Homo sapiens: one gene and its partner. The protein of the gene in region 1 interacts with the protein of each later gene in a biochemical or structural test. Each region holds a gene or a part of one and is shown on either strand. Other genes may lie near its edges.

Evidence for each region.
Region 2: the proteins of AKAP6 (region 1) and RYR2 form a complex in vitro, tested with the Homo sapiens proteins (one study listed by BioGRID).

Annotation. Positions count from the first base shown.
Region 1 is NC_000014.9:32,324,827-32,332,805, forward strand, and holds the start of AKAP6 (A-kinase anchor protein 6), read left to right. Parts: upstream 1-4,471; 5' UTR 4,472-4,582; intron 4,583-7,979. UniProt on the Homo sapiens protein: Binds to type II regulatory subunits of protein kinase A and anchors/targets them to the nuclear membrane or sarcoplasmic reticulum. May act as an adapter for assembling multiprotein complexes.
Region 2 is NC_000001.11:237,611,999-237,619,838, reverse strand, and holds part of RYR2 (ryanodine receptor 2), read right to left. Parts: intron 5,801-7,840; coding exon 4,996-5,800; intron 2,554-4,995; coding exon 2,353-2,553; intron 1-2,352. UniProt on the Homo sapiens protein: Cytosolic calcium-activated calcium channel that mediates the release of Ca(2+) from the sarcoplasmic reticulum into the cytosol and thereby plays a key role in triggering cardiac muscle contraction. Aberrant channel activation can lead to cardiac arrhythmia.

The DNA of each region.
Region 1 (7,979 bases):
CCTGCAGTCACTAAATTACTCCTATGATAGTGGTATTAGTCTATTCACGATGGCTCCACCTCTTAAGTATCATCACAAGGGCAATTAAGTTTCAACATGAGCCTATAGTTCCAGCTACTTGGGAAGCTGAGGCAGGAGGATTCATTGAGCTCAGGAGTTTGAATCCAGTCTGGGCAGCATATTGAGATGCCTCCTCTTAAACAAACAAATAAACAAACAAACAAACAAAACCAAACCCAGAAAACCAAACCCATGAATTTTGGAGGGAACACTCAAACTATAGCCAATGCCTACTTACAAATAGGAAAAAAATGACCAGGAGGAAACATTTCTATAAATGTTGCTGTCTGCAAATGATACTACCAGATTTCTGTCTTGTCAGTTCAGGATGGCAGAGAAAGATTGGAGGCAGACTGAGTTGTGCTGAAGGTGAGAGAAGTTTTATTTTTTCCTTCTTCTGCAGCCGCAGGCTGAATTGGAGGTTTAGTGGTGTTCTAGCTCATTGCTGTTTACAGTCATATTTACTATGTTGCAGATGGACACCCAATGGAACATTAGTCTATGAAAAAAGGATTCTGTGATTAAATATAAATTAGGAAAATACTGCATACTATATTTCTACAGGAGAGTCTCAATGCATATTAGCAGATTGAAAACTCTTAGAAAATCTGCAACCTATTTAATAAATGCTGATGGGAAAACTGGCTAGCTACATGCAGAAAACAGAAACCGGACCCCTTTCTTATACCTTATACAAAAATGAATTCAAGATGAATTAAAGACTTAAAACCATGAAAACCCTAGAAGAAAACCTAGGCAATACCATTCAGGACACAGGCATGGGCAAAGACTTACTGATTAAAGCACCAAAAGCAATTGCAACGAAAGCCAAAATTGATAAATGGGATCTAATCAAACTAAAGAGCTTCTGCACAGCAAAAGAAACTATCATCAGAGTGAACAGGCAACCTACAGAATGGGAGAAAATGTTTGCAGTCTACCCATCTGACAAAGGTCTAATATCCAGAATCTATAAGGGACTTAAACAAATTTACAAGAATAAAACAACCTCATCAAAAAGTGGGCAAAGGATATGAACAGACACTTCTCAAAAGAAGACATTTATGTGGCCAAAAAACATATGAAAGAAAAGCTCATCATCACTGGTCATTAGAGAAGTGCAAATCAAAACCACAATGAGATACCACCTCACGCCAGTTAGAATGGCAATTATTAAAAAGTCAGGAAACAACACATGCTGGAGAGCCTGTGGAGAAATAGGAACGCTTTTACATTGTTTTGGGGAGTGTAGATTAGTTCAACCATTGTGGAAGACAGTGTGGCGATTCCTCAAGGATCTAGAACCAGAAATAGTATTTGACCTAGCAATCCCATTACTGGGTATATACCCAAAGGATTATAAATCATTCTACTATAAAGACACATGCACATGTATGTTTATTGCAGCACTATTTACAATAGCAAAGACTTGGAACCAACCCAAATGCCCATCGATGATAGTCTGGATAAAGAAAATGTTGCACATGTACACCATGGAATACTATGCAGCCATAAAAAAGAATGAAGCTGGAAGCCATCATTCTCATCAGACTAACACAGGAACAGGAAATCAAACACTGCATGTTATCACTCATAAATGGGATTTGAACAATGAGACCACATGGACACAGGGAGGGGAACACCATACACCAGGGCCCTTCGGGGGGTTGTGGGCAAGGTGAGGGAGAGCATTAGGACAAATAGCGAATTCATGCAGGGCTTACAGCCTAGATGATGGGTTGATAGGTGCAGCAAACCACCATGGCACATGTATACCTATGTAACAAACCTGCATGTTCTGCACATGTATCCCAGGACTTAAAGTAATATAAAATAAAAAAAGAAAGTCTGCAATAAAGGAACATGTTTTTAACACTGTCACTTTATCATAAATAATGATATATAATATAATCTTGTTAGAAAATTTATATTTTATTAAATTATAATTTTATCTATAAATGGATAATTTGTTCAGAATAAACTACCCCAAAATCTTGGTGGTGTTTGTTTCTCACTCATTGCAGCCCAGTGTAGGTCAATAGGTAGTTGGGAGAGGATGGTTGAGCTCCATGCAGTCATTCAGGGACCCAGGCTCCATCCACAATGTGTGGCCATTATCTTTCTGGGCTTCAGAGTTCCACTGGATTCTTTGCATCCAGCTAGCAGGACAGGAAAACATGAAGAAGAGACACTTGGTCTTAGCCACCTTTGGAGTTGATGGTTTCCACTTCTACTTCCGTTTCATTGGTGAGTGCCATTTTGTGGGCAAGCAATTTAGCTAGTCCAGGTTGCTAAAAGTTTGACCTGGCCTCAGGTTTGATGAGCCATCCATTTCTTCCCATCAAATGATTGACTTGCTTCTGGCAAAAAAGATTAACAAGATTCTTACCATCTTGAGAAGCCATATTCAAATCTGGAACACCTGCTCCCACCCTGTCCTCTCCTCTTTATAGCATGTGGATTTCAGCTCTGGAAAGACTAATCTTGTTCTGTAATAGGTCCATGTCTCTTTATCTTCTCCAGAGACTGAAGGGTTCTTCAGAGGTATCTTAAAGAGTCAGCTTACAGCAAATGAGGTTGGAGGCAGTGGTTGAGAATGGCTCATCAGTCTGGGCTCTGGGCTTCTTATCTTGCCTCAACCAAGGCAGTCCAGCTTTGATCTGTATCATTAAAAGAAAGGTTATATTACTAATGAAAAACCTGAAAACTATGGTTATTAGCTAAATCAATCATCTCTGCAGATGAAAAACTTGAGGCCCCAAGAAGTTAATCAATTGGCCTGATATCACACAGATGCTCTAGGAGGACCTGACATTTACAGTTGGGTTTCCTGACTCTCAGATCTGTACTCTTTGTACTGGGGTAGCTGCCTGCTACTTCTCCCCTTGTGTGTGGCATGTGGTCTGAGGTCTAAGATAAAGGGAGGGAGTCAGGCTCTGCTGATGCCACAAAGGACCTAAGCAGGCAGATTCACCTCCTGCTTTTGGTCTCTTAATTCCTCTCTAGATGAAGCAAGAACAAGTCTGTCTTCCCATCTAGGGCAGGGTTGCTCTGTGCGAGGCTGATGGTGCACGCTGCTGGGATATTGGCACTTCTCAGGCATTTTATTAGCTCCTGTTTACAGAGACACTGCCTGAATTCCTTCTGCCACTCATCCCACACCGCCTATGCTGGTGGTTAACAGTGCCATTTTAAAATCTCAAGCAGGAGGAGACAACATAATTGTCTCATGTTTTAAGCTTTTGGAATGTTGTTCTTTTTCAGAGTTGTGAAGACGGAGTGGATACAGGTCAACTTGATTCTGCTTTTCTCTATCAATGGCCTGCAAATATTAAATATGCAAAACATAGGCTGCTCTGTCCATATCTCCTTCTCCCCAGTTCTCACCACATGACGTTGATTTCTGCTCAGGACTGGAAAGAAGTGATTGCTTTAGATTTGCTTTTCTTTTACCAACTGGAGAAATGCCTTACCGTGTCTTGTTTAAATGTGGCTTTTCACACAGTTCCAGCTTTTGGGGTTGGGGAGGGGCACAAATAATCTGTGTGGTAGGCAGTTTTATTGTTCAGAAAAGAAGAAAACAGACCCCAATGTTTGGAATGCCAACGATTTAGGAAGTTTCTAGCAGGTCTGCTACTTGTTCCAACCACTAGGTTTGATCCCAGAAAAGACTCACATGCGTTTTGGCCATGAGAAGGAGGGGTTCCCTGCAGGCCAAAGGAAGGGTCAGTAGAAGTTGAGGGTGGTGTGTTGTGCCCCTCTAGATTCCAAACTTCCCTTTGCTGCCTATCTGATGACCAGGTGAAAGCTGGGTTTATTCTGCATGGGAAGGTTCTGTGGGTTGGTGTTCATCAGGGAAAATAACCAGGACAGACTTCATTGGCCAAGGGTTTGCCCATGTTTTGAGAATTAAAACTTGTTTACTTGAGAGTTAGAGTCATTTGGTCAGCTGTTTATATTCCATTTTTAATTATTTTTGTGCTCGCTGTTTTGTTCTTTTGGTCTTTGACAGATGAGCAAAAATTCTTTTTAATAACTTTTAAAAAGCTATCCCAGTGCTGACCAGGGAGGAAAAAGTGATCAAATTGTCTAATAAGGAAACATTGTACATTTCAGTTTTTATTTGCTTAGTACTAATTCTATTTTCTCCTCCCACCTTTTTTTTCTAAATGTATAACAACAAAGGGGGAGATAATTTTTGTTTTTTCCAAAATGCTTTCAGGGAAATCCCTTTTAAACCTATGGATTTTAGTCCAATGAGGAATCCTCTTCCTTTGGTCTAAATTTTGCATATCGTCTGTTTCTTACAGGGCTTCCGTATTGTCTCAGGCTCCACTGGAAATGCAGCAAGGATTCCTAGCACATCCCAGTTGCCATAGCAACAGCAGTCTTTCCCATAATGAGCTGCATCATCTGAACTGATGTCACAGCATCATGCAGCAGGTCAAACAAGGCATCTCCTAGTATTGCATCCTACAGATGTGCTGTAAACATCAAAAGAAGACGGTGGGATCAGGAGATGGTGAGTGTTAAATGTCTGGGCCTTAATTGCACGGCTGTTTTGTTGGTTAGTCGGTGTCTGCTAAGGCGGAGATTGGGGGATGTTGTCTCTGCTTAAAATGGACTGGGGAAAGAAGGGCTGTTTTACCTAAATCGTTTTTCAGGCTGCCGGGTTAAGACAAAGGCCTGTAAGAGTCATATAGGAATTAAAATATGTAGAATTATTCTTGCTCCAGCTCTGTCTGTTATTTTTAAGTGTTCTTACAGAATTTTTCATAAACATAAGATGATTTTTCAATTGCAAAACCCCAGATAAGCTTTAAAATGAGTAGTTAACAGTATTTAAGCATTGTAAAAATATAGATTTCTTTTTGGGAGGCAGAGCTAATTGGCCCCCTCTTTGCTCTTGTGAATTATGAAATATTCAGTGATTTGCAGTATGAAATTCATTATTTACCTCGGTTGGGTTTCAGTTTCTTCATGGCAAGGAACAAATGCTGAATAAGCATTTGACATAACCCTGATGTGAAAGGGGATCTCTTGCATATTCAAGACAGAATTTATTAAAAGCATAAAAACCTAAACCAAATGAAATTATTTGAGCCTTTTGATCTATATGGTAGTTCTTCAACCCATGTCCTTCAGAGTTAGTTGAAAGACTGCCACATATTTTTCCATCTCTAGCTAGTCTCTGAAATAGCTGGAGTTGTTTGCAGGCTGACTTGTAACTGAGAAAGGAACAAGTCTCCTCTCTGCGGCAGTTGCAGTGAAGGGTAACCCTGGGAGAGCCTCTGAAGTGGCAGTGGTGTTGCCATCCCTTGCTTAACTTTAACAAAAATCTGGGTATGATGAATAAATATCAGGGTCCTCAGTGGTTGTAGGGATTACAGACCTCTGGACTCAGTCATAACCTCAACTCAATTCCAAAACTCTAAACACGTATCATTTTCATTTCAACTCCTAGCTCTGTTTTTAGGCATCTTTATTATTATTATTATTTTCTAAAAAATTAGTCTGACAGTGTCAGATAAGGAGCAGAATGTTGCCTTTTGTTTTGGGAAATGAAATGGATTTCCCTGGTACAGCTGATTGCTACTAGGGGAGAGAAAGGAGGAGGCACATGTCAGTTCAATTGATCAATATGTCCACTTAGAATCAGGGAGTGGTCTTGTGGCTTAATGCTGCCAAATTGATAGTTTTTACTCAAAAAGTCTTACACGAAAGAATGGCAACCATTGAATTCCTCTTCTTTTAGTCTGTTTATTGGGGCTAAAGAGATATATCATGGAAAGCAGGAAAAGCAATACCTTTAGCTAGCTTGGAGTGATTTTTTTTTTTTTTTTTTTTTTTTTTTTTTGCACAGAGTTAAGTATGCTAGTCCCATTAGGCACCAGCCAGAGGAAAGGCCTCAGGTTTTAATTTGTTTGTTTATACCACATCACGCACATGCTTGCTACTCTCAGTCCTTTAAGCTTATGTTTCTGACATGCAGCTGTATAGGATGGGAGAGGTCAGCTCAGCCTGGCTTTATCGCAAGCACTTAGAAGCATGAATTGTTCATTGCCTGCTTTTTTATGTCATATAATGTGAGCAGAAAGCTCTGCTGGGACTGCTGGGTGTGAACACATCTAAGTCGAAAGCTCTAAGGTGACAGGGAAGAGTGCTAGATGGTGATGGGGGAAGGGAAAGTATGTCTTGTAGCTAGATTATAAATCTGGATAAAATCACTTAGTGCCTTTTAGAATTTTCTTAAAGTATTATTTCTGAAGAAGAGCAATGAAGAAAGACTTGTTTGGTAACATGAATTTCTAGGAGTAAAAAAAAGCAAAAGGCAGCATTGTAATGAGTTTTCTGTTTGCTTAATTCTTGTCTCTTTTGTTTAAAGTGCTCTTCAGCTGCTTCATCATGGTTGATTTGTTCAATTACTGGAAGTCACAAAAGCTAGATTCCTTAAGGGCAGTGTTAGAAAAAGTGGAGTCATGCTTTGAGGGTGGGGAAGGGCGCTGGTGGGTGTGGACTGACGCAGTTATCTAGTGGAACATCCTCCCGGTTCAGACAACCCTGTAATTTTTCCCCCCGCAAATGTTCAAAATGCAATTACAGTTCTCCAACTTTATGCTTTTGTGCTCTTTTTGCTCCAGGAGAACAAAGCCCTGGTAATGAGAGCTATCATCCTAATGTTTTGTTTCTTCGTTTCTTTGTAGAGGGCCACAGCCTGCGCTGCTCTCTGATTAGCTGCATGTCTTAATTACTGGCTAAGGCTATTTCAGTTGTCTTAGTTTTAATATATCCCCAAGGGGTAGATGGTGTGTGTGTGTGTATAGGGGAAGGGAGAGATTTCTCTATGGCTGTATTTATTGGTGCCTCACTGAAACTTTCTACAGTTTAAGGAATTTTGTTTCACAGTAATGATAGATCATCAAGACCATGTTTATTGGACAGAGTTTAGGCCATGGAAGCCTCACAAGAAGTTAATGTCCTCTATACTTTTGGTCATGGCTTTCACAAATACATTACAAAGTTACAAAGAAGTTAATTCTTTGCCGATAACTAGGCCGCATAGGGATGATAAAAATAATAATCATAATAACAATCATAGCTATCATTTATTCAGTTCTTACTGTGTATCAGTACTGAATTAAGTTTTGTGTATATCTTATTTAGCCCTTATTATTATTATGAAGTAGAGAGTAATAATCTCACTTTATAGGATTAGGTGTTATTATTCACATTTTGCAAAAACCAGTCCTTAGCCAGGCGAATAAACTTGGCTAAGGTTATGTAGTTAATAAGTGATTGGGCCAGGATTCCAAACCATTGCGATCTGGCTATGCAGCACACATGCTTACCCACGGCCATCTCAGTTTTATGACATCTTTACTGTATATACCATACAGATCAGTCATCTATACTCTATCACACGTACCCCACCCCTCCTCATTCTAATTGGAAAATCAGATTTCATATGTAGAATGAAATGTCATTTGCAACACTAAGGTTGATTTCACTGTAAGGATGAGCATGAATCTTGATCAGATGTGAATATTTACTTTGTACCCAGAGATTTAAGTAATGAAGAGTTGATGCTTAGACTTTTGCCACTGCCCTTGCTTGATATAACTTTCTAGCAGGATCTCTGTATGGAAAATGTTACATCAATAATTGTGGGCATGATGGAGTTGCACTCAAAGCAGGTCTTACCTGAGTCAGTAATGATTCAGCTTTGTTATAAACCTGTCTTATCAGCTATATTTGTGGTGCTTTGTTAACTTTAAGATGTTTGTATTCCCTGCTGTTGCACCAGGTTCTGTTCTCAACCTGGTGTTGAGAACAGAAGCAGAAACTTCTCTCACAGTCTGGAAAGTGTAATCTGAATCTATCTCTTAGGTTAAGAAGATAGAGGATTTATTTTGCTGAAT
Region 2 (7,840 bases), on another chromosome or scaffold:
TGAGGTGATCGTCTCTTCTTTCAGCATTTGAAAATTGCTGTGCCACTTCCTTCTGCCCTCCATACTTTCTAATGAGAAATCTGCTGTCACTCAAATTGTTTCTCCCCCTGTAGGTAGTGTCATTTCTTTAAAGACTCCGTCTTTAATTTTTTCAGAAATTTGACTATGATGTGTCTCGGTAAAGATTTATGTTTATCCTATACGGAATGTACTCATCTTCTTGAATCTCTCACTTCATATCTTTTACTGAACTTGAAAAGTTTTCAGCATTATTTTCTTCAGTTCACCCTCTTTCTCCTATCCTCTGAGACTCCAACATCACAAATGTTAGATCTTTTGTTATATTCATCTTCATCTTTTCTTCAGATGGGGTAGTTGATATCACCCTCTCTTCAGTTCACTGATTGTTCCTTCTTCTCCCTTCATTCTGCTTTTAAGCCTATTCATTGAGTTTTAAAATTTCAGTGATTATATTTTTCAGATTTAAAATTTCCATTTGGTTCTTTGCCATATATTTTGTTTCTCTGCCGTTGAGGCTTTCTATTTCTTTTCCATTTTGAAGGAATTACAGGGCGATTGCTTTCAAAACTTCATCAGATAATTTTAACATCTTTGTTATCTCAGTGTTGGTGCTTATTGATTGGTTTTTTCATTCAAGTTTTCCTTGGTTCTTCACACACATGATTTTTAATTGAAATCTCAACATTTTGAGGATTATGCTAGGAGCTCTGGGTCTTATTTTTAACTCTGTTTCACCTGGTTTCCTCTGACCCCATCCAGCAGGAGAAGGGCTTAGGGTATCTTATTGCTGCCAGGTGGGAGGCGAAGTCCATTTTCCCACTCAGCCTTCTTGGACATCTGGAGGAGGGAAGGGACCCTGTTACTGTTGGGCAGTGGTAAAAAGTTCTGGTTCCTCATTAGACCTGTACTGATGTGAACCTTGCTAGAAAGGTAAGAGTGTCTTGCTACTTCTCCTTCCATAACCTCTACTGATACTTTGGAAGAAATGGGCCTTGTTACTACTCAGCGGGGATAAAGTCCCAGCTCTGTCCTCTACTGGGACACCTTGTTACAGCCTGGTGAGAGTGGAAGTCAAGGTTCCCCACTCAGCCTGTGCCCAGTGTGGGTGGGGAACAGTTTTTTCTGTGGTTTTTGGCTTCAGTAGTGCAGTTATTATCTAACACATTTCTGTCTTGCTAAGCTGCCCCTTCCCTGATCCTTTATCTAGAAAGAGGAGGCTTTTGTTGCAGCTTTTCTTGTCTATGCCCATTGGTGTTTCCTGGTTGTCGTCTTCTTTAGCTTCAAATCTGGGATAGATGAGGCAAAAAGAAAATCCAGGGAACTCACCACCATGTTGTTCCTTGGGTCCTGAGTTCTGTAGCCAACCTCTCTTCTTCTCTCTATCTTTCAGAGCCTTCTTATGTTGTCTTCTTTGTAATGTCCAGGGTTTTAGTTGTACTTAAAAGGAAGAATCGGGAAAAGCACATGTACTCCATCTTTCCAGAAGCAGAAGTTTCCCAACAGTAGTTTAACAGAGTTAATCTGGAAGAGGCTGGACCTGTTCTCTGCTCAATAAATGCTGTTTATAACAATTAAGAAAATTCCACATCCCTTTCCTCAAAGAAATTACATTCTGGTGAGAAAAAAAAAAATTCTGTAATTAGTCCCTATAAACACTTTCATTCTGAGCTACCCTGGATAGAGAAGAAAATGGTAAGGGTAAGAAATCAAAAAAGACATCTGTGAATTACATTGTTTAACACCATCCCTACGCCAGTAACTTCCCACACTCTGAGGCCCACTCTGAGGTAGATTCCAGAAAATTTACATCCCCCAACTAGCCCATTCTCTGATATAGGCAGGTTCCCTTTGTTCTGTTGTACCCTCAGGAGACCTGACTTTGGGGGTAAGCAATGAAAGGAAGAAACCACAAGCAGGTAATCAGTCTTCCGGCAAGCAAGGTGGAAGAGACATGTGTTTCTTCTATGGTAGGCACAAATGGAAAGCCTCTAGCATCGAGTCCTAGGAATCAAAAATTCCTATGAGTGGAAGATGATGAAGACCCATTTGTGGTTGAAATTTGCTCCTATTTGAAGAACTTCAGACTCTGGCATATCTTGGCCTTCTCAAAGAGTCGGTGATATACCTGATATCTTCTAATAAGTCCCTCTTTTGTGTAAACTAACCAAAGAAATTCTTTTGGTGAAACTAAGAATACTAACTAAATCAACTTGAAGACTTTAAACAGAACAAGGAAAACAAGACGTGTGAGTTATATAATTTTGCAAGGCAGAGATCCTGAATGACTAAAAGCCAACATAAATACGAAGAATTTTCATTTCATTTCTGTACCTGTTCTTGAGGTGGTGATCTAAATTCCTTTGTCTTCCTGGCTGTGAGTGCAGCTGACATGTTTAAGGCTTGCATGACTTCGTTGTATCGGAAACGTTGATTGTCTTGGAGCTTAGCCACAAAATCATCTGAAAAGGCTACAATGGCTTCTATCCGGTGCCGGACCTGGCAGTCACAGAGGTACTGAAGCAGTAGGCACATCTAAGAGACCATTAAAAAGACACCAAATTTAATTTCTAAATCCTTTAATAATGTGTATGAAATCATAATCTGTGGTAAACATCCTTAGTTGCCTACTCTTCTCTCTTAGAAACAGAATCCTGATTTTGTATAGGCAGCAATGTGCTCGGTCCCAGGAGATGAAACATAATTTGTATAAGCAAAAATGGCAAACAAATGTCCCTTTAGTGGATGTTAACTGATATGGTCTGGTTCTTTCCCCATGAAATCTCACCTTGAATTGTAATAACCCCCACATGTCAAGGGCGGGGCTGGGTGGAGATAACTGAATCATGAGGGTGTCTTCCCCCATGCTGTTCTCGTGGTAGTGAATAAGTCTCACAAGATCTGATGGTTTTATAAATGGAAGTTCCCCTGCACATGCCCTCTTGCCTGCCACCATGTAAGATGTGACTTTGCTCCTCATTTGCCTTTCGCCAGGATTGTGAGGCCTCCCCAGCCATGTGGAACTGTGAGTCCATTAAACCTTTTCCCTTTATAAATTACTCAGTCTCAGGTATGTCTTTATTAGCAGTGTGAGAACGAACTAATACACTTACCCTCCCAGCCTCCCTTTCAGCCACAGGTGCAATGGCCAATGAAATATATAAGGGAAAGTTTGCTAAGGGTCTTCTGGGAAAGTTATTCCATCAGTGATAAGAGACTAGAGTTCCCTTCTTTCAAAATGAGTGTAACTGGGTGATGACATGATTACTGCAGAAAGAATAAGGTGAGCATTTTAGGAAGAAAACCACAGGCTGAGGATCACAGAGCAGAAAAATATTAAGATCTGGGTTATGGATGAGATCATTGAACTGCTGTACCAATTCTAGAAATCTAAACTTAAGACAATTAAGTGGTGAATGCTCATTCATTCAGTGATTAGCTGGGTCTTTCTCCTACTGAAAACCAAAAGGATTTATAACTGAGTGAGTATGTTGGTAGAAACATTTCTAAGAGAGAATGCTCTGCCAAATTTTTAAAAAAATCTATACACTCAATACCAATTGTGATATAAATACATGACAGTGTCAAAGAGGACCTTAAAACCCTCTGTGTCACCATCTACAATATAACCATTTCTATCAGTGCTGTCTCTGAAGTAGTCACAGTGTCCAACCCCTTTTCTCCATCTCCTTTGCCCCACCCTCCTCTGAGCATGGTCTCCTAGAGTTTGGACCAGCAAGAAAGCCTCCTGACTAACCAGACACTAGATCACACTCTCTTTCCTCCCTTATCGATTTTCCTACCAGCAGCCACACTGGCCTTTTCCTGCCTCAGGACCTTTGCTGGGCTATTTGTTTTGCATGGAAAGCTCCTAGAACACCCTGCCTTGTTCCTTTTTCTTGTAACTGCTGAGCACAACTCTTAAATCTGAACTCAGCTTAAAAGTCAAAATCTCTGAGGGGTCTTCTCCCTCATCTTTCTAACAGTAATCCAGTCTAAATGTTCTTTCTTTTAGTAATCCATTCTTTGCCTTCAGAGTATTTAATGCAATTAGCAATAAGATTTTTTAATGCATAAATGAGTGTATATTTCCTTAGAGGCTGTGAGATTCTGAAAGGCAGGGTTCACTTGTGTTTCCCCTAAGTGCATACCCAGAGTAAGGCTTCAGTCAACGCTGACTAAAGGAACGAGGAGCAAAAAAGCAGGTCAGCGATGCAAACATCCAATTGACTTTAATAAACAGAGGAGACATTAATAAAGGACCCTTTAGACATCTTGAGGAGCATAAAGACAGCCAGTGTGTCTGATTCCTTAAAAACATACTAAGGTGGCTGGGTGCAGTGGCTTACACTTGTAATCCTAGCATTTTGGGAGCATGAGGAGTGAGGAACACTTGAGTCCAGGAGTTTGACACCAGCATGGGCAATAGAGCGAGACCTCATTTCGACTAAAAATAAAAAAAAATTAACTGGGCATGGTGGCATACCTACAGTCCCAGCTGCTGTAGAAGCTGAGGTGGGAGGATGGCTTGAGCCCAGGAGTTCTAGGCTGCAGTGAGCTATGATTGCACCACCACTGCACTCCAGCCTGGGTGACTGAGTGAGACCCTGTCTCAAAAGAACAAAACAAAAGCATACTAGGGGAAAGTAAAACCTTGCTATGTGACAATGGGTGCATCTACTGGTAAACAAGTATTCTAAGGTTGGTAAGAGTGGAAATATGGGTGGAAAGGGGTATTTGATGGCTTGTATTTCAGGTATTCCAATGTAATGAAGGTAAAAAGCATCTGGGAAACAAGAGGAGATGGCTAATGAATAAGAGGGAAAAGAATAGGAAGTTAGTTAATTTTATGAAGAACTACCATTACACAGGAATGCAAAGAAATAAACACACACACAGAGAAAGAAACAAAGGCATGTTCTAATACCTTAATGCTTAGCAATTCTGAAATTCACTCAAGTCTCTTGTTCTGATTACCTGCAATTTAACTGGCTCTGGCAGTTTCATTTGGAGCAGGCCTTCCTTGGGCCGCTTGCCCCCCTTGGCTTCTTCCTCACCAGCTCCTTGCAGCTTTGCATCGTCCACACTGAGCTCTTTCTCCAGCGTGTCACTCTCCTCCTCCGGAGTGGCAGCTTCTTTAAACACACTGGGCTCAATCAACTGCAAGATGTGCTTCAAGTCCTCGTTGTGAAAGATGCCCATGATCAGCAGGGTATAGAAAAGCTTGATGAGAGGTACAAAGAGGAATTCAGTAGTCCCTCCAACTGGGTCCCGGGCATGAAGACTGCCCTCTTTAACAGCTTCTGTCAGCATCTGTATGGTTTTGGACTTGAGGATGTCCAGTGGGAACTCTGGACTGTACTGGTAACATTCATTACTAATGCTTACAAAACTGGGGGAGGAAAACTGCATCCGTGGCCTGAGGGAGGTGCTGAGGCCGATCCCTGGAAGGCCGTGTTTTTTGTTCTCATCAGGGAACAGGGTGATGCTCTTCGTCTCCTCCGTCATGGGGACAATGTACTCGTTGTTCATCATGAGCCTGGCAGTGGCATAGGAGCTCAGGTGGATGTCAATCAGCAGGTCATAGTAGCCAGCACGCAGCAAACCAGGCATGTACTTGTTCTCAATGGCATAGAGGAGCTGAGGTTCATCCACATGGCTGCACAGGGCATGGGCCACCCGGTGGTTCCCAAGAGCACAGACGGCTGAGTAGAGCCGGAGAGTGTGATAGTGAAATTTCAGCAATTCCTCCTGCTCTGTCAACTCTAAGATGTCAACAGATCTGTAGAAGGGAGGAGAGTGGTAGTAAGATTAGAAATGAATGATTTTTTAAAATCTGAATCAGAGGAGAAATCAGTATGCACTGTAAATTTGAAGGAAAAAAGTTATGGGAATAGACACTGCAGGTTGAACATCCCTAATCTGAAATGCTTGGGACCAGAATTGTTTGGATTTGGGACTTTATTCAGACTTTGAAATGTTTGCATTATACTTACCGGTTGAGCATCCTGAATCTGAAAGTCTGAAATGTGAAATACCCCATTTCCTTTGAGCATTATGTTGGTGCTCAAAATGTTTCCGATTTTGGAGCATTTCGAATTTCAGATTTTTGGATTTGGGACACCCAACCTGTGTCTTCTTTTAATTTTCTATGACATGTTTAATGGCTGCATAGTACTTTTAATCATTTCTAGATGTTCTACAAATTTTCTTCTACATAGAATTTGACATTCATCTAGCACCTCCTTCCTCCTCCATTGTATCAAGGATCTGTGGCAATGAGCCGAGATCGCGCCACTGTACTCCAGACTGGGCAATGGTGAGACTCCACCTCAAAACAATAGATAAATAAAGAAACAACAACAAAAAAGTCTCTAGTGGAGAAATTTCTTTCATATGTCATTGTCATTCAATTGTTCATCAAATATCACTGAGTGCCTATTATGTATTAGCACTGCGCACTGATGATACAATGGTGAATAATATAGACATGATTCCTGCCCCCAGGGAGCTTATATTCAATTGAGGGAGTAAACCACCCCCGCTGACCAAAATGGAGTAAATTAAATTATAAACTGTGACATGTGTTAAGGAGAAACAAAGTACACACTGACATAAATCTACCACCATTGCACACTTTAAAATATTAATGATTTGTCATGTTATTGGGGCATCAGATTCTTCTCAACCATGCTAGTTAAGACTTCCTTTTTTGGAATTTGGATTTTGAAACTCATCATATTTTTCTTTGGCTGCTAGGAAGAATGAAATTAATGTGGGCCCCAACTCTACCAATCGGTGTGGTATAAATGACTGTGTGTCACTCTTAGCCTCAGTTTTATTTTCCTATCCATATATTTTCTATGGCCTGATGCCAGTGACACATTTTTATACATTCATGTTCCATATCATTTGGAAAACTGCCTCAAATCCTTTATGATCTTTAGTGAGAGTTTACATTATCCATTCACATACATACACATCTATCACAGGCAATTAATATAAACTACTGAGACAAGGTGTTATGTTGGTTTTCGATGATAGCATGCCAAAATGTTAAATTATAATGTTAAAATTCCATGCTCAGTAGAGACACAACGTTTTCCTTCATAAACAAGAATTCCTTCCCAAATGTTGTGTTTGTTTTGGTTGTTCGGTATTTTCTTAAAAAACATCATCAGATGAAAAATTATGATAAAACTCTTCTCACAAAAAAAAAGAATACAAAATTAAAATCAAACTGAACCATCTCAAGAGTACATTATGAAAGATATCTAATTACCTCATGTAAAAAATGTAAATACATATGTAATACATAAAAAGAATTAACTAGCCAGATTAATTTTTCTTTGATTTTCTTTTGTTTTAAAATATCTTTGTTGAACTGTAATTTACATGCTATACAATTTACCTACTTAAAATACATAATTTAATAGTTTATGTATATTAATGGAGTTGTGTAACTATAACTATAAGTTGAGTTTAGAACACTTTTATCATCCCAAAAGGAATTTAGTACCCATTAGCAGTCCTGTTCCGCTCCTAGCCCTAGGTAACTACTAATCTACTTTTCGTTTCTAAAGATTTGTCTATTATGGACTTTTCAATTAAATAAAATCCCACACTAGTAGGATTCTTTCACTTAATATACTTCCGTGACTGGTTTCTTTCACTTAATATAATGTCTTCAAAGTTCTTGCATTTTGTAGCATATATCAGTACTTCAATCATTTTTATTGCCAAATAATATTATATGGATATATCACATTTTGTTTATTGACTCATAAGCTGGTGAACATTTGGGGTTCCCTTTCTTTTACTA